4 linked regions of the Homo sapiens genome follow. The protein of the gene in region 2 interacts with the protein of the main gene of each other region in a pairwise test. Each region holds a gene or a part of one and is shown on either strand. Other genes may lie near its edges. The genes, in order: IPO13, PBX4, USP20 and EIF1AD.

What was found.
Region 1: the proteins of PBX4 (region 2) and IPO13 interact in binary tests that used the Homo sapiens proteins (3 or more experiments, as listed by UniProt).
Region 3: the proteins of PBX4 (region 2) and USP20 interact in binary tests that used the Homo sapiens proteins (3 or more experiments, as listed by UniProt).
Region 4: the proteins of PBX4 (region 2) and EIF1AD interact in binary tests that used the Homo sapiens proteins (3 or more experiments, as listed by UniProt).

What each region holds. Positions count from the first base shown.
Region 1 is NC_000001.11:43,949,944-43,956,971, forward strand, and holds part of IPO13 (importin-13), read left to right. Parts: coding exon 1-210; intron 211-3,519; exon of another isoform or gene 3,520-3,540; intron 3,541-6,376; coding exon 6,377-6,517; intron 6,518-6,616; coding exon 6,617-6,758; intron 6,759-6,866; coding exon 6,867-7,028. UniProt on the Homo sapiens protein: Functions in nuclear protein import as nuclear transport receptor. Serves as receptor for nuclear localization signals (NLS) in cargo substrates.
Region 2 is NC_000019.10:19,561,190-19,566,692, reverse strand, and holds the end of PBX4 (pre-B-cell leukemia transcription factor 4), read left to right. Parts: intron 1-1,603; coding exon 1,604-1,760; intron 1,761-3,077; coding exon 3,078-3,184; intron 3,185-4,575; coding exon 4,576-4,668; 3' UTR 4,669-4,980; downstream 4,981-5,503.
Region 3 is NC_000009.12:129,873,447-129,880,474, forward strand, and holds part of USP20 (ubiquitin carboxyl-terminal hydrolase 20), read left to right. Parts: intron 1-35; coding exon 36-69; intron 70-252; coding exon 253-298; intron 299-1,129; coding exon 1,130-1,310; intron 1,311-1,382; coding exon 1,383-1,509; intron 1,510-1,863; coding exon 1,864-2,033; intron 2,034-2,113; coding exon 2,114-2,195; intron 2,196-2,683; coding exon 2,684-2,792; intron 2,793-4,891; coding exon 4,892-4,994; intron 4,995-6,126; coding exon 6,127-6,198; intron 6,199-6,666; coding exon 6,667-6,827; 3' UTR 6,828-6,843; exon of another isoform or gene 6,844-7,020; 3' UTR 7,021-7,028.
Region 4 is NC_000011.10:65,999,158-66,006,163, reverse strand, and holds the start of EIF1AD (probable RNA-binding protein EIF1AD), read left to right. Parts: upstream 1-4,006; 5' UTR 4,007-4,254; exon of another isoform or gene 4,255-4,359; intron 4,360-5,658; 5' UTR 5,659-5,774; coding exon 5,775-5,861; intron 5,862-6,002; coding exon 6,003-6,111; intron 6,112-6,488; coding exon 6,489-6,597; intron 6,598-6,766; coding exon 6,767-6,814; intron 6,815-7,006. Other genes in the region: BANF1 (barrier-to-autointegration factor), read right to left, coding at 2,392-2,538, 2,791-2,913.

The sequences.
Region 1 (7,028 bases), on a different chromosome or scaffold from region 2:
GCTGGAGCAGCTGCTACAGCAGCCCAGCTCACCCAGCTGTGTGCGTCAGAAGGTGCTCAAGTGTTTCTCCAGCTGGGTGCAGCTGGAGGTGCCGCTGCAGGACTGTGAGGCGCTCATTCAGGCTGCCTTTGCTGCTCTGCAGGACTCGGAGCTCTTCGACAGCAGTGTGGAGGCCATTGTGAATGCCATCTCACAGCCTGATGCCCAGAGGTGAGCTAGTACCCACTCACCCAGAAGACAACCTCTTTGGCCAGCCACACATCCATCCATCCATCTGTTCAATAAACATTAATTGAATGTGTACTGATACCTGGTCCTATGCTGGAGATACAGCAAGGAACCAAAGAAGACATGGTCCCTGTCCTCATGGTTCAGACAGGGAGGCAGACATTAAACAACTAATTATCAGTTATTCAATTAAAATATTTGACTCTCTTTTCCTTCTCTCAACTAGTCACCAAGTCCTGGCTGTTCCCCTCCTGACCATATTGCAAATCTATTTTTTTCCATTTCCATTGCTACCACCTTAGTCCAAGCTGTCATCATCTCTCTCCCCAGATTACTGTAGAGCTTGTCCTCACTCTTGTACCCTTCATTGTCCCAGCAGCCACAGTGATCTTTTGAAAATGGGGATCTAATCTTTCTGATCAGAAGCTTTCAGTGGCTTCTCAATGCTCTTAGGTTAAAGCTCAGAATCCTTAATGTGACTCATAATGGTGCTGCACAGTATGGCATCACTGGCCTCATCTCATGCTACTCTCCTTGCTCTCTACACGCTCACACAGTTTCTTTAATTCCTTGAATGTCCCATGTTCCTTTCAGCCTCTGGCTCATTACATATACTTGACACCTTGCCTCAGCTTAAACTTCATTTCCATAGGGAAGTCCTCCATGGATTCTTAAGGCTAAGTTTGATCTTCTCTCTTATATTACCTCAGAGCTCCCAGTATTTTTCCTTCTTAGCCCATAACATGATTTCTCTCACCTCTGTGAGGACAGGGACTCTGTCATTTTACTTTGTCGCATTGTGCTCGGCACATGGTAGCATTTGATATTTTGTGAATGGAGGAAAGTAGGAGTTGCCTGAGTTGGGAGGGGTGGGGCTGGAAGGGATTGGGGGAGGAAGGTGGATTGTTCTAGGCTTTAGGAACCACAGCATGTGCAAAGACTTGTGGGCAGCATCATGATATATTCAAGGGCCCTAAAGAAGTGAGTGTAGTGAAGTGTTTGGCAAATGTTCATTGAGCATGTCCTGTTTTGGGCCCTGTGCTGAGCTCTGGGAGCACAGAGACAAATGCTTTAGCTTCAGTCTCAGGAGCTCACAGTCTAGTGGACACATGAGTGGCAAGTACAATCAACATGATGAATCCTCTGATGGAGAACGCAGGGGCCTTGAAGAACCCAGAGGAGGCTTTCACTGAGTCTGAGGGCTGTGAAAGGATTCGCAGAGGAAGTGACAACCCAGCTGTGTAAGAGTTAGCCAGATGGAAGTGATGGATGGGGAGGACATTCCAGCCCAAGCAAGGGAAGGGTGAAAGCCCAGAGGGTCTGGTGATCTGTAAATCATTAGATGTGATTAGACAGCAAGATTTAAGGGCCAGAGGTATAGGAGACCTGGGCCCAGATCATGCAGGACCTTGGCCAAGTTTAAGATTTTGATCTTCATCCTGAAGACGATATAAAGATATTAAAGGATTATAAGCAGAGAAAATGGCCTACTGAGACTTTTGGTATGAGCTGGATTAGAAGAAGTGAGACTGGAGGTCCTGATGCTGACATTTCAGAGATGGGGCTTTGGGACCTTTGGCAGAATTGGAAGGGAAAACCATTGAAAGAGACTTCATGGAAGAGTGGCTGATGACTCAAGCCTTGGCATTAGTCACATCTAAGTTTGAATCCCAGATGGTTCACTTATTAGATCTGAAATCTTGGATCAGCCATTCCTAAGGCTCCGTTTCCTCATCAATAAAATGGGGATGATCATATCAACCCCACAGAGTTGAAAAGGTTTAAACAGGATAATGTGCACAAGTCCTGCCCCTGGTGTTCGGTAGAGAATATTTTGACTCCTTGAGTAATGGGAGTTCTTTTGTGGTCTCTGCTAGGGTTGGGATGGTCAGTAGCATGCATTTGTACCTTTGGGTTATTGATACGTTACATGTTTTAAAATGGGAACTGTGTGTATATGTTCTACCTTTATACTTTATGTGATCAGTTAATGGTAATTGTTTATTTATTTATTTTGAGACAGAGTCTCACTCTGTCACCCAGGCTGGTGTGCAGTGGCACAATCTCGGCTCACTGCAACCTCCGCCTCCCGGGTTCAAGCGATTCTCTTGCCTCAGCCTCCAGAATAGCTGGGATTACAGGCGTGCATCACCACGCCCAGCTAATTTTTGTATTTTTAGTAGAAACGGGGTTTTGCCATGTTGGTCAGGCTGGTCTTGAACTCCTAACCTCAGGTGATCCATCTGCCTCCGCCTCCCAAAGTGCTGGGATTACAGGTATGAGCCACCATGCCTGGCCAACTGTTCATTTTTTTAAAGAGAAACATAGTTACTATTAAATGGATTAAGGCTGTTTACTTTTAGTACTGGTCATAAGAAGTAGAACTGGAATCATGCAATAGAAAGTGGGCCTAGTTGTTCAGTGGCTAAATTTGAAAAGGAGTTGGTTTCCTATATATATATGTGTGTGTATACATACATATATTTATATGTATATGATACACACACACACATAGATAATGTGCTTAATCACTGCCTTTTGAAACTTTAAATAAAATATTGGGTTGATTTTAAAAAATAAAAGATTGTTTCGGTATGAGGATTAAATAAGAGAATGTGAAGCTTTTAGCATGGTTCCTATATACTCTGTAAACGGCAGTTGCCAGTATTTGGTTTCATTATTGTGTTGGGAGTTATTATGATACTTATCCCCTGGCTTCCCAGGCTTTCCAGCTTAAGGTGGATACCTAATCCCAGATCTCTTGGCAGCCTGAAGCTCAAGTGCTGGGTGGGCTCTGACAGTTGGTGACTAAGGGAAACAGATCAGGGCAAGTGTGTGGGTGATGTGAGGTGTCCTTGGATACACCCAAGTTTACCCGCCCAGCCAGTCTCAAGGGCTTTGGCAGGTAATTGATGCCCCTTCTCCTCTGAACGAATGAGCGAGCAAGGAGCCAGTGAGGTAACCCACAGCCTCCTTGGTGCCCATTGGCTGCAGCCCCTTGGTTGCTTAGCAACTCTCCCCATTTTCTCAGCTCTGCTCCTGAAGCAAAGCTCTAATTGCAGGTCTGGGCTGAGCTCCGTGTGAGCAGCAGCAGAGGAGTCCCAGCAGCCCTGCCTCGGCTACTTGAACTGACCGATTGGAGCCAGGCCTCTTGAACCCAGCCTCAGCTGTGGTCATAAAGACATCCTCCCTGTCTCCTTCCCCCAAACCTAGAAACCTCTGGGACCTCAGACTTGTTCTTCTGTCCACTCACAGGTCGCAGACACAGGTGCTCAGGTGGTAGGAAATTTATGCAAGAACTTCTTCCCATGGGTGAGCTGCATCCAGCCCAGAATCCGAGCCTGGCCCTTGCTCTCCCCAGTCTAATTTCCCAGCTTTGGCTTGTGAAAGTCACCTTCAGTGACTTTGACTCCTGGGTCATCCAGGCACGCCTTCCCCAGGTGTCCTGACATTGGCCCTCCCCTTGGCTGAGCTTGCACTCAAGTCACCCTTTTCCTGCCCCTCCACAGCTGCTGCTGCTTCCTGGCTCTCTCCTTTGAAATGTATTTTTTTTTCCTGAACTATGTTTTTAATGCTGGAAAAGCTTGTCCTTGGGAGTTGGGGATGGAGGGAAAGTGAATTAGGCAGGCTCTTGGGGGCTCCCATCAGTTAGGACTGGAGATATGGGCTGAGACGTACATAAATCCTTTGGGGAAATTCTGGTTGGGCCCTGAAAGAAAAGCAGACCTGTAGCAGTTTAAGGGGCAGTTTCAACCTGGATTCTGCTTCTAAGTTGTTGTATGACCTTGAGTGATATGATACTCTGAGCTCTTTGAGGCTGTATTATCCTTGATTTGTCCTATTTTGAGGCTCAGATGAGACAAATGAAGAACATTTGCCGAGTACCCTGCCATCTGCATGAACTTTGGCAGGTGGAGGAAGGAGTCTTAGAATACAGTGGGGAGCTATGGGAGTAGAGCGCTACCTCCTGCACCCATCTCAGCTGCTGAGGAGCTTGTGGGCCATAGCCTTGGCCCTGCCCCTTCTCTTTGTGCCAGAGTCTGGCCTGAAAATGCCCATTGTCTGGTGGTGCAGCCCGTGTCAGGGTCAGGAGACTGAAGCTATCCCGGCTGTCTCCAGGCAGCACCCCCTGGGGCTGTCTCTGGGCTGGGGATATCCTGGCATGGGTGACTTTTCCTACCAGAATGGGGATGTGGAGAAGGAGGCCGATGTCCCTAGGCTGGTTGCCTCTTTTTGTCCTTCTCATCCTCCCACCAAGGATATGAGGCTACTGCCTAGCAACCTGCTTGGGGCAAGTCCAGATAGAACTCCCTCTGGGATCCTCAGTCCCCAACTCCCTAACATAGATTGCTATGGTGACACTATGATTGACAACAGAGGGGTCCCAAGCATCTGATCCCCGCTATTAGAGTGTGGCTTCCTCTGCTTAGTCTCATCTCCACAGACCAAGGTGCTGGAGAGGGATCCAGTGGGCTGAGCCAGGCTTCTCTCAGTCCCCTTTGTATACTGGGCTGTCTGTCCTTCTCCTTTAGAGATCATTGTGTTTCAGGGCTGTGATCTGGACCCTCTTATTTTTTTCTCATTCAACACTTTCTCCTTGGGCAATTCTCATCTATTCCCATAACTTCAATTACCAGCTGTTAGCTGATGACTCTCAAATCTATGGCTTTTGCTCTAACCTCTATGCTGGGCTTCAGGCTTTTATATCCAACTCTTTCTAGATGCTTCTGCCTGCATAACCTATCAGGTGTCTCTGAATCAACTTGTCTAAGACTGAGCTTATCACCTTCCACCTCCCATTAAAGGTGTTACTGTTCCCCGCTACTCACCCCACAGGTCTCAGTAAATAGCTCCACCGTCTACTTAGTTGTTTAGCCAGTGACCTGAGAGGTGTCTTTATTCTTCTCCTTCCTCATATCCAGTCAGTCATCAAGTCCTGTCTGTTTTGCCTCTTAGCTCTCTCTGAGTTCATTGTCTACTTCTCTTCCTCCCTGCTGCCACCACACTCCTCAAGAGTTGGGATTTGGTGGTAGAGGGTGGAGCGGATGGCAGGGATTGATGCTCTCATGAGCTGTTGCTGCCTTCCAAAGTCTTTTTTTTTTTTTTAAATCAGGGCTTATGAGCCTGTGTTTACTCTTCTGTATCCCACTCTTGTTCAATCACCCCTGACAGACTGTATTAGTTTCCTAGGGCTACCATAACATAGTACCACAAACTAGGTGGCTTTAAAGCCAAACAGAAATTAACTGTCTCACAATTGTGAAGGATAGAAGTCTGAAATCAAGGTGTTGGCAAGGCTGTGCTCCCTCTGAAACCTGTAGGAGACTCCGTCCTTGCCTCTTCCTAGCTCTGTGGTTTGCTGGCGGTCTTCAGTGTTCCCTGGCTTCCAGCTGGATCACTCCACTCTCTACTTTCATCCTCACGTGGCATTCTCCCTGTATGTCTCTGTCTTCACATAGATATCTTCTTATAAGGACACCAGTCATATTGGAGTTCAGGTCCATCCTACTCCAGTATAACCTCATCTGCAATTATCTTATTTCCAAATAAGATCACATTTTGAGGTACTGGGGATTAAGATTTATCAAAAAATGTATCTTTTTGTGGGGACTTAATTTGACCCATGACAGTCTGCCCTCTGGTGCCCCAAACTTCATGTTATCCCCACATGCAAAATATATTCACTTCATCTCAATCTCCCCAAAAGTTGTAACCTAGCTGGATGTGGTGGCTCCACCTGTAATCCCAGCTACTCTGGAGGCTGAGCAGGAGGCTGAGTCTCTTGAGCTCAGGAGTTCGAGACCAGCCTGGGTAACACAGCAAAACCCCATCTCAAAAAAAAAAAAAAAAAAAAAATCTTAACCCATTCCGGAATCAGCTCTCAGTCCAACTGGAGAACACAATTCAACCCATAATGCTGACCTTCTCATACGTCCTTCTCAGAGTTCTTCTGGGGGTCCCTGATCTAAGGTTCTTCCCAACATTGGGAACATCAAATCTGCCATGTAGACCCTGACCCTTTTTTTGCTTAGGATTTGATAAGGGAAGGGGAGCTTTGATGGAAGACAAGGAGATTATGCCTTTCTCTTAAAGCCAGTGTGGGGTTGAGCAGAGAGCTCTGATGGATTTTCTCACCTCATGCCTCTAGGTACGTGAACACACTCCTGAAACTCATCCCGCTGGTGCTGGGTCTGCAGGAACAACTGCGGCAGGCAGTGCAGAATGGGGACATGGAGACCTCCCATGGCATCTGTCGCATCGCTGTGGCCCTGGGCGAGAACCACTCCCGGTAAAGGGTGGAGCAGCTTGGGGTGGGATAGTAGGGCCCTCTAAGAAATGGGGTTCTGGAAGTCCCTGGAAAGGTAGAATGACCTGACTCTCTCCCCAGGGCCTTGCTGGACCAAGTAGAGCACTGGCAGAGTTTCCTGGCACTCGTCAACATGATTATGTTCTGCACAGGCATCCCTGGCCACTATCCTGTCAATGAGACCACCAGCTCCCTAACCCTCACCTTCTGGTACACACTGCAGGTGTGTCTGTGTGACCTCCAGTAGGACTGGGCTGTGGTGGAAGAAGGTGGATCATGGGCTTCTATGACTGCTGGTGAGGTGGCTAATTCTCTTCCCTGGCTCTCTCAGGATGATATTCTATCCTTTGAGGCAGAGAAGCAGGCTGTATACCAGCAGGTGTACCGGCCAGTCTACTTCCAGCTGGTGGATGTGCTTCTGCACAAGGCCCAGTTCCCTTCTGATGAGGAATATGGATTCTGGTCCTCAGACGAGAAGGAGCAGTTCCGAATT
Region 2 (5,503 bases):
ATTAGCCAGGCTTGGTAGCACGTGCCTGTAGTCCCAGCTACTGGTGAGGCTGAGGCAAGAGAATCACTTGAATCTGGGAGGCAGAGGTTGCAGTGAGCTGAGATCGCACCGCTGCACTCCAGCCTGGGTGACAGAGTGAGAAAAAAATGTTTGAAGTAGCAAAGGTCATCCACAATCCTCTTCCATCCCTCAGCTGTTTCATTTCTGTGTGTTATTATACTATACGTTTATTTTACTTGCTTTGGGATACTGAAATGTGGCCCTGGATGGACGTCTCCATGCCTGTAGGAAGGCGCTGGCCCTGGGGTGCTCACCCATGTGAATCTGCCCAGGGGACATTTTTGTTGTCACGACTAGAGAAGGGAAGTGCTCCTGGCACCCAGTGGGTGCCAAGGATACCGCTCAGCACCCTGCAGTGTACAGGACAGCCCCCACAGAGCAGATGGAGCCCAAGCATCAGCAGTGCCACCAAAGGTGACAAGCCCCTCCCTGGGGGACTCCAGTGCCAGTTTGCAGTCAGAGCTGGGCTGATTCCACCTTGGCCATGGACTAGCTCCTTTTTCTCCTGCCTCTGCTTTCTTACAGCAGGGACGATAACAGCTGCCTCCCAGGTCCTCATGAGGATGAGGCAGAATGATATATGAGGCTGGGCCTGGAATCCCAGCATTTTGGGAGGCCAGGGCGGGAGGAACTCTCAAGCCCAGGGGTTTGAGACCAGCCTGGGCAACAGAGCGAGACCCTATCTCTAAAAAAAAAGAAAAAATATATTTTTTTTTCTGAGACAGGGTCTCACTCTGTTGCCCAGGCTAAATTGCAGTGCGATCTTGGCTCACTGCAACCTCTGCCTCCCAGGTTCAAGTGATTCTCCTGCCTCAGCCTCCCGAGTAGCTGGGATTACAGGCATGTGCCACTGTGTCCAGCTAATATTTGTATTATTAGTAGAGATGGGGTTTCTCCATGTTGTCCAGGCTGGTCTCGAACTCCTGACCTCAGATGATCCCCCCACCTCAGCCTCCCAAAGTGCTGAGATTACAGGCGTGAGCCACCACGCCCGGCCAAAAAACCTTTTTTTAATTAAAATTAAGAAAAATATATGAATATATGAGAAGTGCTTATCCTAGCACCTGGTACATTCCAACTACCCCTTCAGAGTTCACCTTGTTTTCATTTGATAAGTTTGGGATTCGATCGCAGTTACTGGGTCCCCAGGTCTCCCTGGCTCTCACTTTTCCTGAAGAGAACACGGAACGTAACCTGCCGCCTGCTGCATGGCAGCCAGAGGCGCTGTCCCTCCCGGCCCACCTCAGACAGTCTTGTTTTCCTTCCAGCCCCTTCCCAGGTTCAGGTTCCAGCAACATCCAGTTTTAGGCAGCAGAGTTCTAAGACACGCCAGCTCCAGGGTGTCCTCAACCCATGTGGACATCTCCCTGGGTCCGTGGTTCAGAGGGCGCCACCTTCTCAGTCCCAGACTCTTCATAGCCCCAGGGTGCAGTGTTGTCTTCTAAGGCAGTGGGAGCAACGGGCACCCCAGGGAACCCACAGACTGCGTCGTGTCTCAGAAGTCGCTGGGTCAGCTCCTCCAGTGACTCCTGTGTGTCCGCAGGTCTCTAACTGGTTTGGCAACAAAAGAATCCGGTATAAAAAGAACATGGGGAAGTTTCAAGAAGAGGCTACCATTTACACGGGTAAAACGGCTGTGGATACCACGGAAGTTGGGGTCCCAGGGAACCACGCCAGCTGCCTGTCAACACCTAGCTCCGGTGAGTGAGGCTGGCCCAGGGACAGTCATCTGTACCCATGTGGACGGCCACTGAGCTGCATCTGGGGAGGCCACAGTGGGACCACATCTCCCTTCCCCCAGTGGTCAACTCTGTGTAACTCTTTCTTCTGTTTCAACTGTGAGAGTTCTGTTCCTCTTGGCCATGATCCCAACCAACAGATACCTGTGCTTTGGGGACAGAATGGCGATACTAATAAGAAAAGACATGAAAGGTCTGGGTGCGGTGGCTCACACCTGTAATCCCAGCATTTTGGGAGGCCAAGATGAGTGGATCACCTGAGGTCAGGAGTTTGAGACCAGCCTGGCCAACATGGTGAAACCCTGTCTCTACTGAAAATACAAAAAAAATTAGCCCGGCATGGGCTGGGTGCAGTGCCTCACACCTGTAATCCCAGGCCGAGGCGGGCGGATCACGAGGTCAGGAGATAGAGACCATCCTGGCTAACACAGTGAAACCCCATCTCCACTAAAAATACAATTCACAATAGCAAAGACTTGGAACCAACCCAAATGTCCAACAATGATAGACTGGATTAAGAAAATGTGGCACATATACACCATGGAATACTATGCAGCCATAAAAAATGATGAGTTCATGTCCTTTGTAGGGACATGGATGAAACTGGAAATCATCATTCTCAGTAAACTATCGCAAGAACAAAAAACCAAACACCGCATATTCTCACTCATAGGTGGGAATTGAACAATGAGAACACATGGACACAGGAAGGGGAATATCACACTCTGGGGACTGTTGTGGGGTGGGGGGAGGGGGGAGGGATAGCATTGGGAGATATACCTAATGCTAGATGACGAGTTAGTGGGTGCAGCACACCAGCATGGCACATGTATACATACGTAACAAACCTGCACATTGTGCACATGTACCCTAAAACTTAAAGTATAATAATAATAAAAAAAAAGAAAGAAAAAACAAATTATCTGGGCGTGGTGGTGGGCGCCTGTAGTCCCAGCTACTTGGGAGGCTGAGGCAGGAGAATGGTGTGAACCTGGGAGGCAGAGCTTGCAGTGAGCCAAGATCGTGCCACTGCACTCAAGCCTGGGTGACAGAGCGAGACTGTCTTAAAAAGAAAAAAAAAAGACAAGCCATGAGGGGACATGAGTAGTGTGGTGGGGAGGGCCCGCTGGCCTGCCTGGGTGGGGGCTGAGGAGCAGAGGCCGGATGCTGAGGAGGGGCAGGAGCCACATTCGAGGCCTCCTGCCGGCTGAGGGGCTGGGTGGGTTCCACCTGAGGAGGCGCCACGACTCTGCCCACCCCGGCTCCCATCTCTTCCAGGCTCCTCTGGACCCTTCCCGCTGCCCAGCGCTGGGGACGCCTTCCTCACCCTGCGGACTCTGGCCTCTCTCCAGCCTCCTCCTGGGGGAGGCTGCCTGCAGTCCCAGGTGAGTCTCAGGCACTGTCCCACAGCGCCCAGGTGGGTGGTAGGTTCTCAGAAAGGGTCGTCTTGTCAGCCACCCCTCGGCCTTGGGGCAGCTTCCCCAGAGGTCCCAGCAGCCACACAGGCCATGCTGCGCGGCCACCTCTGGGGCACAGCTCTGCAGGGCCCCACTCTGTAATGACTGTGCCCTCCCCCACCTCCACTTGTCACCACGGCAGCCGCTGGGAACAGTCAGTGGGGATGAACCCCAAGATGAGGGCTTTGGCTGTGGAGGGGAAGGGCACCTCCTAGAGGACTGTGGGAGGACATGGTGTCCTTCCCTCGAGAGGGAGGGGCAGGCAGCCAGCAGAGGAGGCCGGAGGAGAGATGGGGCCTTCCCTCGGGCTCAGACCTCAGTGCCGCAGCTTGGCTGGGAAGGCAGCGAGTGGGGACCGTCTTGAAGACACTGAGGAGGCCCAGGTGTCATGTGCCCAGCACAGGCACGAGGCTGTGTGTGTGGTGTGTGCCAGGGCACTGCAGAGCCGGGTGCCCCTCCCAACTCACCACTCTCTCCCAGGGGTTCAGAGAACGGATGCCTCCTGTGCTGTCTGTGGGGTCCCACCTGGTCCTGGGAAGCACACGTCCCACACTGTCCTGCTGTGGCAGCTGCCCCCCATCACCATGCAGCCCCCAGCCAGGGACACACGTGAGGGGCCTCACCTTGCCCTTTGCACCCCTGGGACCTGACTACGCGCCAGCAGCTGTGTGTCCACCCCAGTTCAGAGCAGAGTGCCCCCAGGTGGTGCACCCGTCTGAGCTGCTCCCACACTCACGGGCAGAGCAGTCCCAGCCACTTCCTTAACCTGTACCGTGCCCACCATAGTGGGGGTGGGTCCTGTGGACAAACGTCTTAGCGCCGTTGGACGTGATGCCGTCTCTGCACTGCAGACAGAGCCCCCACCCCTTATGACAAGTGGTTGCCTCCCACCCTCCTTGCTGCCCAGCCAGGCCAGTGTTGGGCCAGGTTTCAGAGCCCCTTTTTCCCACCGAGTCTCACCATGACGCTCCGGGCGTCATCATGGGCTCCAGGCCTGACCTTGCCTCCCTGCCCCTCGCCGGGCAGGAGCCCTTGTTGTACCCGATGCCAGTCAGTCCTTTGCCTAAGCCCCAGGGAAGCCACTAGAGGCCAGTTTTCCTGCCGGGGAAGCTCGTCCATGTCCCATGTCAGGTGGCAAGGCCAGCTGTGACCCAGGACCGACCCCTCCATCCCTTCCCTCCTCCACTGAGCTGGAGGTCATCTGTGGATCTTTTCCAAGCCTTCCCAGGGACCCCTGGAGGCTCCGCCTGCAGCACGTGGGCTGGGTAGTCACCAGTCTCACGGCCACCCACTCTGATGCTCAGTCTCTGTCGTTTCAGGCCCAGGGTAGCTGGCAGGGGGCCACCCCCCAACCTGCAACTGCCTCACCTGCTGGAGACCCTGGCAGCATCAACTCCAGTACATCTAATTAAGTTTGGGGGATAAGCAGGAAAGAGCGCTGCGTGAGCTGCCATGTATCGCCAGCCGTTGCTTTGTTACTGAACGTGCCGCCGACGACCTCAGAAAACCCAGATGGGTGGTGGTGCCCATGAGCCCCTGCTCCTCAGCCAGGCCCGTGGCGCCGGCTCATGTGTCTGCTGCGACTCGAGATGGCCTGAAACGCCACTCATTCTCCCACTTCAGTTCGTTTTTTTGACAGTAATTTTATGGTAACGCTATGAATTGAATTGTCTGTTCTAGGACTGGGCACAGATTTTCCCATTAAAATTTTTGACTTATTTTAATTCCGATGTCTGTTTGCCAGATTTGTTTTGGGTGGTAGTTGACACCGGTCACAGCTGCAGTGTCATGTGTGCTGTGATTTTGCCACTCACCTGCGCCGCTCAGGCACAGACTCCCAACACTGTCTTCTGTGGGACCGTATCATTCTGTTCTGATTTTAAAATGTCCTGGCTGGGAGCAGTGGCTCATGCCTGTAATCCCAGCACATTGAGAGGTCGAGGTAGGAGGATTGCTTGAGCCTAGGAGTTTGAGACCCGTCTGGGCAACATAGTGAGACCTCGTCTCTACAAAAAAATTCTGCTTTCAGATTTTTTTTTTTTTTGGGGGACAGATTCTCGCTCTGTCACCCATGCTGGAGTGCAGTGGTGTGATCTCGGCTCACCACAACCTCTGCCTCCCAGGTTCAAGCGATTCTTCCGCCTTAGCCTCCCAAGTAGCTGGGATTACAGGTGCCTGCCGCTATGCCCAGCTAATTTTTTGTATTTTTGGTAGAGATGGGGTTTCACAATGTTAGCCAGGCTGGTC
Region 3 (7,028 bases), on a different chromosome or scaffold from region 2:
TTGCTAACCTCTGACCCTTTGTTTTACTGCCCTAGGTGACAACATGTACAGCTGTGAGCGGTGTAAGAAGTAAGTGAGCCTTCCCCCGCCTTCTCCCTAACTGCCGTTTCTGTGCCCTACATATTCCCCTTGGGTTCCTGCAGAGAGCCCCCTATAATCCTGCCTTCCCAGAAGGGAGCCGGGTGGAGGGCTGCTTCCCTGGCCCCTGGCCCTGATGCCGGACACTGATGCTGGCTCGTGCTTCCTCCCCAGGCTGCGGAACGGAGTGAAGTACTGCAAAGTCCTGCGGTTGCCCGAGGTGAGCCAGTGGCCTCGGCAGCCTCCTCCTCAGCTATCTCGGGATGCACACCAGCACACACCAGGCAGGGGCTGAGCCTGCTCCACTGCTCGGGCACTTCTGTGCTGCAGGGGCCGTGGAGACTCCATAGCTTTGGCTGAGAAACCTCTGGGAAGGGTTGGCAGGGGGCACATTTTTCCAACTGTGACTTGGTGCCCTCTCTCGGTAGCCTCAGCACATGTTGTCTAACATGTTGTATGAGGGCCCAATGGGAGGCAGGTGTGTGGGACACTGGGTTACCACCCCCAGTGAGACAGCTATGGCTCCTGCCAGCTGCAGAGTGGCGGGAGGAGAGCTGGTCCAGCTGGGGCTGTTGCCAGGGGTCTTTCTGAGGAGTAACGTCTGAGTGGGGCCTGGAGGGTGTAGGCTGGTGTCAGCGTCGTGGATGGAAGGCACAGAAGGAACAGACAAAACCCCAGTGCAGGAGCAGGCTTGTCCGCACCAAGGAAGGCACGTGTGGCTGGAGCAAAGAGGAGAGGGCCCTGGCAGAGGGGGCCCAGGTTGGGGCTGTGGTGGCTCGGGGAGGCTTTGTGGCTTCTCAAAGGTAGTGCCGACAGAACTGGTAAACTTGATGGCTCATTGCAGCTCTTGGGGTCCAGTTCTCAGCAGTGGAGCTGGGAGTGATCTGTGTGACTTAGAGCGAGCCCAGTCTGGCCCCCACGTGGAACTCTTGGATTTGTTCCAATGGAGTCAGCTTGCATGATCCCATCAGCTGTCCTGGGCCCGTGGGCAAGGCTGCGAGGGCCCGCATCATTTCTTCCTAGATGACCGGCGCTCTCTCTGTCCCCGCAGATCCTGTGCATTCACCTAAAGCGCTTTCGGCACGAGGTGATGTACTCATTCAAGATCAACAGCCACGTCTCCTTCCCCCTCGAGGGGCTCGACCTGCGCCCCTTCCTTGCCAAGGAGTGCACATCCCAGATCACCACCTACGACCTCCTCTCGGTCATCTGCCACCACGGCACGGCAGGCAGTGAGTCATGTCCCCTCCCCTGCCGTCCCCATCCGCTAGGATCCCTGTGACCCGTCTGCTCTGCCGCCGCAGGTGGGCACTACATCGCCTACTGCCAGAACGTGATCAATGGGCAGTGGTACGAGTTTGATGACCAGTACGTCACAGAAGTCCACGAGACGGTGGTGCAGAACGCCGAGGGCTACGTACTCTTCTACAGGTGGGCGCTGGGCCAGGCCTGGTGGAGGAACCTCACCATCCCCGTCCCCTGGGACCCATGGGCCTTCTGGGTGTGTGTAGGGGACAGCGCCTGGATTAAGCCAGGGAAGTAAGGACTTGGATTGTTAAGAAACAGCCCTCTGGCTGCTGTGGGGAACCCAGGAAGGCAGCTTGGAGCCTTCTCCAGGGCCCTGGCTGGCGGCACAGGGGGCTGCTCACATGTCCAGGACCCGTGAAGGACCCAGGAGGTGGTGGACAGGGCCGGTAGCCCGAGGTGCACTGGGATGGGGGCTCTGCATGTGTCTGAAGGTGGCAGCCGTCAGGCACAGCTTCTCGCCCCCTCCTCACCCCACAGGAAGAGCAGCGAGGAGGCCATGCGGGAGCGACAGCAGGTGGTGTCCCTGGCCGCCATGCGGGAGCCCAGCCTGCTGCGGTTCTACGTGTCCCGCGAGTGGCTCAACAAGTTCAACACCTTCGCGGAGCCAGGCCCCATCACCAACCAGACCTTCCTCTGCTCCCACGGAGGTGAGGCGCCCCCTGTGGTGGGAGAGCAGGGTGGGCAGCTGGGCCGAGCCACAGCTTCGCTCCCTGTACCTTCTTCCCAGGCATCCCGCCCCACAAATACCACTACATCGACGACCTGGTGGTCATCCTGCCCCAGAACGTCTGGGAGCACCTGTACAACAGGTGAGAGCCTGGGAGGCCAACTTGTCTCCGTCCTGTCCAGGGCCCAGCTGGGCAGGAAAAGAGGGGAGGGCAGGGAAGGAATGCCACCAGGACCCCACACCACACTCTGGCCTCCACGTGGGCAGCACAGAGCCGCCTTCACTTGTCTCATGGAGAATGACACATGTCGTTTGTGGGAATCCGCTTGGATCCTTCCAGCGGCAAGGGACAGGAAACTGGCTGAAGCACAGCTGAGTGTGTTGGCCATCTGCTGAAGCACAGCTGAGTGTGTTGGCCATCTGCTCTTCAGCCTTGAAGCAGGACCTCCCTTGGGCTGTGGGCGCGCTGCTCCGTTGCAGGCTCTGTGGTGCTCACACAGAGGTGCATGCAGGCCTGCGACAGCGCTGAGGGGGCACTGATGGCTTGAGGGGGAAGTGGAAGGCAGTGATCACTCTCCCCTCCCTGGTACCCCGCTCAGGCCGTGTCTCTCTCTCCCACCCTGGGCACAGATTCGGGGGTGGCCCCGCCGTGAACCACCTGTACGTGTGCTCCATCTGCCAGGTGGAGATCGAGGCACTGGCCAAGCGCAGGAGGATCGAGATCGACACCTTCATCAAGGTGCGTGCGGCGAGGCGGCGCGGGGGCGGCTCTGCCAGCCTCTGCCTGGGGCAGCTGGGGACTTGGGGACAGAAGAATCCTGTGCAGTCCCTGAGCAAGTTTGAAAGCAGTCTTTTGAGGCTGGGCATGGTGGCTCACACCTGTAATCCCAGCACTTTGGGAGGCTGAGACGAACAGATCACTTGAGGTCAGGAGTTTGAAACCAGCCTGGCCAACATGGCAAAACCCCGTCTCTACTAAAAATACAAAAATTAGCTGGGCTTGGTGGCAGGTGCCTGTAATCCCAGCTACTTGGGAGGCTGAGGCAGGATAATCGCTTGAACCTGGGAGGCGGAGGTTTCAGTGAGCTGAGATTGTGCCACTGCGCTCCAGCCTGGGCAACCGAGTAAGACTCCATCTCAAAAAAAAAAAAAAAAGAAAAAGAAAAGAAAGGAGTCTTCTGCGGGGAACTAGATGGCCAGGTGTCTAGGAGGGCTTTTCCTGGTGGGAGGGTTGGCTTGAGTAAGTGAAGCCTCATCGCCCGGGTGCTGTTGAGCTTAAAGAACCAGTAGATGGATCCCATTCTCAGCCTTGGCTGTGTTATTTTGGGCTGAATTATTCTTTATTGTGGGGCCGTCCTGTGCATTGTAGGATGTTTAGCAGCATTCTTGGCCTCTACCCACTAGTGCTAGTGACAACCAAAATGACCTCCAGAGATTGCCCAGGGTCCCCTGGGGTGCAGAGTACCCTCCCTGCCCTGGGTGAGAACCACTGGGCTCTACAGACTGCCCAAGATAAAGCAGGAAGTGAAAACCAAGGTGCAAACCAGGACTCAAGTGTGACTGTGTTTAGAAGAGGGACTTCTGTGAGGGAGCTGAGTGCAGGCGAGGCTCCTGGCGCACTCCCTCCCTGCCACGCTACTTCTAACAGGGTTAGGACGTGTTCCACTCACAGGGAGGGCCTGGTGAGAGACACTGAGGGACGCCCGTGCTTTGTGGCCATTAGGAAATGATTCTGCTGCCTGGGCATGGTGGCTCACGCCTGTGATCCCAGCACTTTGGGAGGCCGAGGCAGGTGGATCACTTGAGCCCAGGAGTTCAAGACCAACTTGGCCAACATGGCGAAACCCCATCTCTACAAACAATACAAAAATTAGCCAGGCATGGTGATGTGTACCTGTAGTCCCCGCTACCTGGAGGGCTGAGTGAGTTGGGAGGATCACCTAAGCCTGGGAGGTTGAGGCTGCAGTGAGCCGTGATCATGCCACTGCACCGCAGCCTGGGCAATAGAGTGAGACCCTGTCTCAGAACACAAACGAAAAAGAGACTGTCAGGGCTGGGCCTAGTGGTATGCACCTGTGGTCCAACCTACTCAGGAGGCTGAGGTGGGAGGATCACTTGAGCCCAGGAGGTCAAGGCTGCAGTGAGCCATGATTGCGCCGCTGCACTCCCGCCTGGGCACAGAGTGAGACCACCCCCCATCTCGAAAAAGAAAATGCTCCTGTCAGAAGGAGAGCTGCCTCTCTGAGCAGATAGGCACATTCTATTCAACCGGAGAAAATTAGCATCTCCCAGGCCGGGCGCAGTGGTTCATGCCTGTTATCCCAGCACTTTTGAGAGGTCGAGGTGGGCGGATCACCTGAGGTCAGGAGTTCAAGACCAGCCTGGCCAACATGGCGAAACCCCGTCTCTACTAAAAACACAAAAAGTAGCCAGGTGGTGGCACACACCTGTAATCCCAGCTACTCAAGAGGCTGAGGTGGGAGAATCGCTTGAACCTGGGAGGCAGAGGTTGCAGTAAGCCGAGATCGCGCCACTGCACTCCAGCCTGGGTGACAGAGTGAGATTCCTTCTCAAAAAGTAGAATCTCCCTTGTGGTCTCAGTTGGGTCAAACAGTTATTGAAGAGACCCACAAAATGTTACCACCGTCCTCTCTGAGTGATGGGTGTGTTCATTTTGTTTGAGCTTGTCTGGGGGTTTGATTTTTCACCTTGAGTATCTGGTGTTTTTGTAAGACTCTTGGGTGAGGGACTGGGGCGGGGGCATTTGGGAAATCCTTGCTGAAGGTAAATAGAGACTGACCTGCCCTCTGTCTCCTCCCGTCCCTGCCCGCCTGCCAGTTGAACAAGGCCTTCCAGGCCGAGGAGTCGCCGGGCGTCATCTACTGCATCAGCATGCAGTGGTTCCGGGAGTGGGAGGCGTTCGTCAAGGGGAAGGACAACGGTGAGCTGAGGGGGGACCTGGCACTTACCTGCCCTGGGGGCCTCCTGGGAGATGGGATGCTGGCAGGGGAGGGCTGGCACACAGGGGCTCCTGCAGGCCCCATGCCTGCCCCCAGGTGCCACCCATCCAGGGTGAACAGAGAGCATGGGGCTTTGCCAGTCCCCAGTGGGGATCACTGTCCCCACCCAGAGGCAGGAAGCTGCTCCTGCTCTGCGCCCCCTGCCCTTCTCCACTCCCTGCCATGCCCAGCAAGCTGCTCTGCCCTCCTGCAAGGCCCTTTCCTCAGGGGAGTGTGTCGCCCGAAATGACAGATTTGTCATCTGACTCCTTGGATTTACAGAGGTGGAGACAGGCCCCATCACAAGCTCCCAGGGTCCCCCAAGTCCCCAGTGAAGAACAGCAGAACCAAGCCATGGAAGCCCACAGGCTCTAAACTATTAAACCTGCATTAAAAATTTCGGCTGGGGCGCCCTCGGGGCATAATCTAACCTGTGGCTCCGGGGCCCGGCAGGGTGGGTAGAGCCCACGGTTCTGCTCACGGGACCCTTGGTGTGGAGCATGAGCACCCACCTGTGCTTGGGAAGGGAGGCCTCATTGCCATCCCGCTAGTCGGGGAAGGTGCCAGGGCCACCGTGAGGCCTCTCTGGTGGTGGCTGAGGCCTTCAGCATGGCTGTGGTTGAGAATGTAGCTCCGGAGCCCTCGCCCTGGCCTGGACGCTGGCCTTGCCTTCTACCAGCTATGACCTGAGTGGTTACTTCACCTTCCCAGGCCTCGGCTCTGTCTCTGTAAACCTCTGTCTTGTCCTGTGGTTGCCGAGGCTAAATGAGATAGCTGGGCAGAGGGGAAGGGGCGTGGTGAGCGGCAGCTGCCAGCAGAGATAAGGGCATGGGCCATCCACCGCAGCTCCTGCGGCCAGCACAGAGTCTGAGACCATCTCGTGTGTCCTGGAAATTCCCTCTGCTGGGTCCTCAGACTGCCACAGAGGAGCATTGGGTGGCTCAGGCGCCTCATCCATTAGAGACTTCACGCTGACCCCCAGGCCTGGGGCGGCCCCACTTGGGATGGCTCTGCTGCTGTGGAGGGTGGAGGGCATGGCAGGGGCTGAACCCGAGCCCGCTGTGTCTGTTGCAGAGCCCCCCGGGCCCATTGACAACAGCAGGATTGCACAGGTCAAAGGAAGCGGCCATGTCCAGCTGAAGCAGGGTGAGTTCCCCCTGGGGTCAGCCAGGCTCCTCTCTGCCCTTCCTGGCTGCCAGGCTGCTGCCCAGTCCCGTCCTTCCAGGAGCCCCCTTACCACCTGTCTTAGAGTCAGGCTGAGACGTCCACCTGAGTCCAGACCCAGGCGGCTGAGAGATGGCCCAAGGGGCTTGGTCTCTGCTTGTGTCCTCCAGGTCCCACCCCTCTGCCTGCTGCTGGCCTTGCCCACCCTGCTGTTTATGTCAGCCCCACCCCCAGGAACAAGGGACACAGCCAGAGATGTGTTATCCGGGGCCCTTAGCGGGATGGACATTCCTCTGGGAAATCCTGATTTCCATCTGACAGCTTTGCATAGAAGCCCTGGTTGCCGTCTTCCCGCTTCGGGGCCTGGCCCTGCGGAGCCCCCACTGCCCAGGCCGGTGGCTTCCTTGAGGAGGCAAAGGTGAGCCTAGGGGTGCCTCTCGTGCCCTGCAGGAGCTGACTACGGGCAGATTTCGGAGGAGACCTGGACCTACCTGAACAGCCTGTATGGAGGTGGCCCCGAGATTGCCATCCGCCAGAGTGTGGCGCAGCCGCTGGGCCCAGAGAACCTGCACGGGGAGCAGAAGATCGAAGCCGAGACGCGGGCCGTGTGATCTGCTGGGCTAGTCTGTAAGTCGCCCCGGCTGGTCCCTCCATGGCACTCTGGGTCCTCTCCTCACTCTCCAGAGACCCTCACATGTCCTTTTGAACATCCAAAGAGCAGGTCCCTGAAAGCACCTTCCTGGAGGATGTGGGAGGGCCCTGGACATGGCCCGGCCCCACTGCTGAGTGCCCGTGTCCCCACAGCCCCATGT
Region 4 (7,006 bases), on a different chromosome or scaffold from region 2:
GTTATCTTTCTATTGTTGAGATGTAGCGAATACACTGAAAAGGGCGCAGAACATACACTTTTGGTCAATGCCTGTACCACCACCCCATAGGTCAGAAACACAGGTCAGGGTAGGCCAAGCCTACCCTTAAGCCCTTCCACACCCTCCCCCAAAGATAATCCCTGTAGACTTTTTCCTTTACTATTTACCATAATCATTTCCTTTGTTTTCCTTCTAGTTTTACCATCTATGTAGGAATTCCTAAGAATTTGTTTGTCTTCATTTGCTATTGAGATTCGTGTTGTACACAACTATCATTTGTTCATTTTTACCTCCGTCCAGTGTCCGGTGGCATGAGTGCCTATTTATCTACTCTAGTATTGACAGCCGCTAGCGTTGCTCCCAACAATGCAGCTGCAAACTCATCTAGGTCCTGCTGCAGGTGTTCGGGACTTTCTTCAAGGCACAGTCCTGAGAGTGGAACTGCTTGGTCACAGGGCGTGTCAGTTTTACTAAATAACACCCAACTGTCTTCCCAAATTGTTTAGACCAATTTATACTCCCACCAGCTAGGTATCAGTTCCTGTTGCTTCATTATCTCATCAATACTTGGTATTGTCCAACTTAAAAGTGTTTGCCAGTCAGGTGGGTGTTAATGGCATGTGATGTCTTATTACTAGCAATATGGAGCACCTTTCCTGTGCTTATTTACTGGGAGGGAACCCTCTTCTGTGGCCGTCTTAGATCTTTTACCCATTTTTCTGTTGTTTTTTTTTTTTTTTGAGACAAAGTTTCATTCTGGTCACCCTGGCTGGAGTGCAATGGCCGTGATCTCGGCTCACTGCAACCTCTGCCTCCCAAGTTCGATTCTCCTGCCTTAGTCTCCTGAGTAGCTGGGATTATAGGCGTGCACCACCACACCCGGCTAATTTTTGTATTTTTGGTAGAGATGGGGTCTCACCATGTTGGCCAGGCTGGTCTTGAACTCCTGACCTCAGGTGATCCACCCACCTCGGCCTCTGAAAGTGCTGGGATTACAAACGTGAGCCATTGCGCCCAGCCAGTCCGCTTTTTTCTTGATTGCAATTCTGTATGTGCTATGGAAATAGTCCTTTGTTGTTTATACTGCTGCAAATATCCTTTCCCTACAACCACCTCATTTTCCAAGTGGAGAAACTGAGGCTCAGAGAGGCTAAGCCACATGACCAAGGAACACATGGCCGGGTCCCTGGGTTTCCAAGCTAGTTTGAGTTCCAGTCTGGCTACTTCCCAGGAGCAAGTCCATGGGCAAATTAGCCTCTCTGAGCCTCAAATTTCCTCACCTGTAAAGGAGAAAATATTTATTACTGTGAAAGAAAAAAATGTTTGCAAAGATTTTAGCTTCAAGCCTGGTTCATACTAAGTGTTCAAGAAATAATAGGGCTGGCCGGGTATGGTGGCTCACACCTATAGTCACAGCGCTTTGGGAGGCTTAAGGATCGCTTAAGGCCAGCATGGGCAACAGAGCAGGGCCCTGTCCCTATTAAGTTAAAAAGTAAACAAAAAGAACAGGACTAAAATGTACTGAGGTGTACTCCCCTCACATCCTTCCAGCTGTGATGCCTGTGCTCCTTCTCCTCCCTAAGAGATCATGGAAGATGGCAAGCACCCTGCCCACCCTTACAGAGGCCGGGAGAGCAGATGATGACTGGCAGGTGAACTCTCACCCACATCCGGCCCACCCTGTCTGGTACCTCTGACTCCCACTGACTTTTCCACCAGGTGCTGCCTAGCCCAGCTGTTGACTTAACTGACATCTGGAGCACAGTCCATCTGGCTCCCAGGAAAAGATCCACCCACACCCTCTCCCACATCACTCGGGGATTGAGACAAAAGTCACCTGCCTGAGGCCTACATGGCTAGGGTGGCTGCCCTCTGGGAGTGGAAGGGAAGCTGCCAGTTTCGGTCTCTACTGATAAGGAGTGAGGGAAACATGGTCAGTCCCTGAAGGAGAGGCAACTCCCAGCCCACTTGCTTTTCAGTGCACAAAGCCCAGTCATGAAAGCCACTGACTTTATTGATCTAAAAAACTTTACAAGGACAGTGACTGTTCTGCCAAAAAAGGAGCCAAATGGTATCAAACGGATTGAAAGTGAGGGTGGGGGTGAGGGATGGGGCCGGGAATCCATTCAGGAAAGCTGGTAACTGTCACCAGGGAACTGGCAAGGGAAAAAGGACGGGGGAGGCATGCAAGAGCGAGAATCCAAAAAAAAGTTGAAATGGTTAGGGGAGAAAACTCCCAAAAGACCCCGGAGTACGTCGGAGGTGAGTACGACAATAGCAATCTTTTCCTTCGTAGAGGACAGGGGAGGAGTCCCTACTCGGCTGCAAACTCTGGATGAGGGCTGGGGATTGAGAGCTTCCCAGAGAGCATCACAAGAAGGCGTCGCACCACTCTCGAAGGCATCCGAAGCAGTCCCGGGACTGCTTGGCGTTGGCGCCACAAGTGTCTTTCAGCCATTCCCGGAAGAGGTCTTCATCTTTCTTTAGCACCAGAAACTGGCCAAGGACAACATAGGCCTGCAAAACAGGGAAAAGGAAGGAGCGTGCTGCTCAGTGCTCAGTGAGAGATAAGAGCAAGACAGCCATTCCTGTGCCATTCAGAGCACACAAGCCCAGGAAGCAGCGCGGGTTTTGCCCCCCTCTCCTCTCCACCAGGTGCCCAGGCTCTGGCAGCCTCTTCAGATTATACCTTACTGTCCATCCCCCAGCAGATGGAATCACTTCCCTTCCACCCCCCGCTTGCACTAGGTACACGCAGCCACCCCACACCTTGTCAAAACCCCTTTCCTCCAGCTTCTTGCCCAGGACTTCACCAATCCCAGCCAGGCTCCCCACTGGCTTCTCCCCCATGGGCTCTGCCACGAAGTCTCGGTGCTTTTGGGAGGTTGTCATCTTGATCAGGCTTAATCTAGGAATCCCAAAAAAAAGGCAGATTAGGGCTGAAGACCTGGAACTTCTAAGGGCCCACGAGCAATCTCATAGTAAGAGGAAGCCAAGCCAGGGGTTACAGTGGCTTGCTCGATCCCCCTCATCCTGAAAGGAGAAAACAGTTCCAGGGAGACTCTTCCCTACTATTTTTAAGAGGAGTTTCTTCCTGCAGGACCTGGATTTTGATCTTGCCCCAGAGGAAAAACGATCCTGCCTAACAGGTGGCGCAAGCGGGGCAGTGGAAAGATGCCCAGAGTCCGTAGCCAGGGCTGCGCGGAAGCTATCACTCCCTCTGTGACCTTGGCTGAACCAAGACGACACTGCCTGCCTGGAACGGCCACTTGGCGTGGAAAGCTAACCAAAGGGTCTCTCTACCTACAGGGCGAAGCGCACACCTAGCGCTGCGCACACCCGCTCCCCGCCCGCGGGGTTCACGCCGCGCCCCAGCTCCGCCCCCACCGCGCGCCGCTGCGGCCCGCCCCTTCCCGCGGCCCGGCTCCCACGCGCTGCACCCCGCCCCCTCCCCGCAGCGCGGCCAAGCTCTCCCCCAGGGCCCGCCACAGCGCCTGCGACCCCTCTCCTCCCCTTCTCCCCGCAACCCCTCTGGCCTCCAATCAGGGCCCTGCTCCGCGGCTGGCGCTCACCCGCAACTTCAGTTCCCGTAACGGTTCCTCCCGCCACCCGGCCGCTCCTGCGGATACCTCAAGCCACTAGAACTTTCTTCCACTTCCGCTTCCGGGTCGCTTCAAGAGCCGCCTTTAAAAAAGAAACATTCCACGTTGGGCACTTCTAGCCAGTTAGAGCTATAGAGTTGAGGCGCCCCGGACCTCGACGGCGTCCTTAGTAGGCGCTCCTTTCCGGTCCTTCGCGGGAAGCCCTGCCTTCTAAGGTCTCGCTTCTCGCGCAGTTCTGAGGGAGATAGGCCTCCAGGGAGAGGACTTCCTTTCTCTGCTGCCCGGACCCGGAACTCAAGGACTTAGGCTTGACGGACCTGGCGTGGGGAAGAGTTAGAAGACGGACAAGGGAGGGGACGGGAGGCCTCCGAGACAGCGCCGGAAGTACGGTTTTCGGAGGGATCAGACTCAGACTCACGTCGCACTCCTCGCAGTTGGACTGGTGGGAACTGGGAACACTGGAGACCTGATTTCTAACTGACGCTACCGTCGCGGCCGCCGGCAAGTTCCTTTACTGTGTTTTCTTGGTTCAGCCTTGAAGTGAGTCGTGGACGATCCTCTCTCAGCGTCCAGCCTAGACGGCGGTGTTGCTCCGGCAGCGTTCCTGGGAGCCGAGGGCCAGAGACTAAGTGTGGGTGTTTCTCTGAGGGTCTTTTCTCCGGGATAGACAGGGAGGAGGAAGGAGGACAGCAACTAGAGACGACAGTGTTTCTTTCGGAAACCATCAGTCTTAAGGGTACTGGCCTTCGTCTTCTAAGTACGCAAGTCAGAAATATGCAAATGTCGCAGACAAGCCTGCTCACCTCAACCTTTAATTAACTAGTTCCTGGCTTGAACCATCACGGTGGCCACCTAGTTTGTCTCCGGCTGTAGTGTGTTGCCAGACTGAACTTCTCTGTTGTGTGACTATGCTAGACTTGGGGTGTACAAGCGTGTTGAGAAAGATACGGTTTATTTCAAACTCCTTCCAGAGAGGTTGCCAGGATGACTTCTCTGGAGCATGCGTATAGTTTTATATTACACTAGTACTTAAGATTATAGGAGTTACTTTTTTTTTTTTTTTTTTTTTGAGACGGAGTCTTGCTCTGTCGCCCAGGCTGGAGTGCAGTGGCGCGATCTCGGCTCACTGCAAGCTCCGCCTCCCGGGTTCACGCCATTCTCCTGCCTCAGCCTCCCGGGTAGCTGGGACTACAGGCGCTCGTCATCACGCCCGGCTAATTTTTTGTATTTTTGTAGAGAGAGGGTTTCACCGTATTAGCCAGGATGGTCTCGATCTCCTGACATCGTGATCCGCCCACCTCGGCCTCCCAAAGTGCTGGGATTACAGGCGTGAGCCACCGCGCCCGGCCGGAGTTACTTTTACATGACATGCATTGTATTGTCCCATTCTGTTGTAGCAGGACGAGTCGCAGACAGAACTCCTCAGACACCAGATTAAAGAAGGAAGAGGTTTTTTTATTCGGCCGGGAGCGTCGGCAGACTCGTGTCTTAAGAGCCGAGCTCCCCGAAAAAGAAATTCCTAGCCCTTTTAAGGGCTTACAACTCTAAGGGGTCTACGTGAAAAAGTCATAATAGATCAAGTAAGCGTGAGAAACGTGACTGGGGGCTACATACATCAGCTAACAGAACAAAAAGTTTTACAGTGCTTTCTCATACAATGTCTAGAATTTACAGATAACACCAGTAGTTTTGGTCAGGGGTTAATAATATTATTATTATTTTAGCCACCAGGGCCAGGTGGTGGTGCCAAGGTCGTCTAGCTATTTATCTTACTTCTGTTTCTTTCCAACTTTTTGCTTTCTCCCTTTTCTCCTGTCTTATAAACTAGGGAAAAGGGGAGGTTGGAGAGAAACTAAGAAGGCCAACAGGAGAAGTGGTGGCCTCATACCATACTGTAACAGTGCTGAGTTAGCTGTTATTTTTCTGGGACCTAGAGAAGTTGAATAGTTAGGAAATAAACCAAGGTAGGATTTGAATCCAGGCAGTTAGACTTCAGAACCCATGTTCTTAACCAAGACACCGTGTCACCCCTCAGTAAAAGGCCCCTCCCCATCTTCAGAACAGTCCTGGGTTCTGAGCCTGCCATCCAAGGAACTCAGGAGGAGGAGTTGACAGTCTCTTCGTTCCTAACCAGTGTGGGACGACTTCAGCATGTCTCAGGCCACCAAGAGGAAGCATGTGGTGAAGGAGGTGCTAGGGGAGCACATAGTGCCCTCCGACCAGCAGCAGATTGTCAGGGTGAGTGGCGTGGGGCACAAGCTGTTCTGCTCCCCACCCCTGCAGCCCTGGAGGGCCCCTGGGGTGGGGGTAGGGTGCAGCGTGTCTGAGAGGGTGTTTGATCTGACTGATGAGACTGATTCTTGGTCTCTCCTGAACCAGGTACTCAGGACCCCAGGGAACAATCTGCATGAGGTGGAGACAGCCCAAGGGCAGCGCTTCCTGGTGAGCATGCCCTCCAAATACCGCAAGAACATCTGGATCAAGAGAGGTGAGAGGATTACTCCTGTAATCCTGGCACTTTGAGAGGCTGAGATGGGAGGATCGCTTGAGACCAGCCTGGGCAGCATAATGAGACCTTGTCTCTACAAAAAGAAAAAAATTAGTTGGGCACGTGCCTGTGATCCCAGCTACTCAGGAGGCTGAGGCCTGAGAATCACTTGAGCCTGGGAGGTGGAGGCTGCAGTCAGCTATGATCATGCTATTGCTTGCCAGCCTGGGCAACAGAGCAAGACCCTGTCTCAAAAAAAAGAAAAAAGAGAGAGGTGAGAGAGGCAGCCCTCTCTAGGAGATAGAACCCCTTCCTATGGCTTTGGCTTTCCTTATTGCAAGCAGGCCTGACTTTGCCTTTTCTCTTCTTATCTACAGGGGACTTTCTCATTGTTGACCCCATTGAAGAGGGAGAAAAGGTGAAGGCTGAAATCTCGTTTGTGCTCTGCAAGGACCACGTGCGCTCTCTGCAGAAGGAGGGGTTTTGGTAGGTGGTCCCCTTGATCATTGGCTGTCTGGCTTCTGGAGGCATTGCCTTCCTAGCTTGGGAATTAGGGGAGGGAAGGTCATGGCATCCCAGGCAGACACAGCTGGAAGCAGCTCTTTTGTGAGAAATTTATTTGTCCTTTCTGACTTTGGCTCATCTCTTGGCATAGGCCTGAGGCCTTCTCTGAAGTGGCTGAGAAACACAACAACAGGAACAGGTGAGGAACAAGCCTTGGGGTGGGGTACATGGAAAATAAGGGGTTCATGCTTTGGTGCCTTGAGGGAAAAATAGAGCCTTCTTTCCTCCTTACATAGGGTATCTGTTGAGAGCTCCTAAGCATGTGGTATAACATGGTTATGAATGGGGTTTGAAGGTCAGATGCTCTGGGTTAAAATCTTGGCTTTGCCAC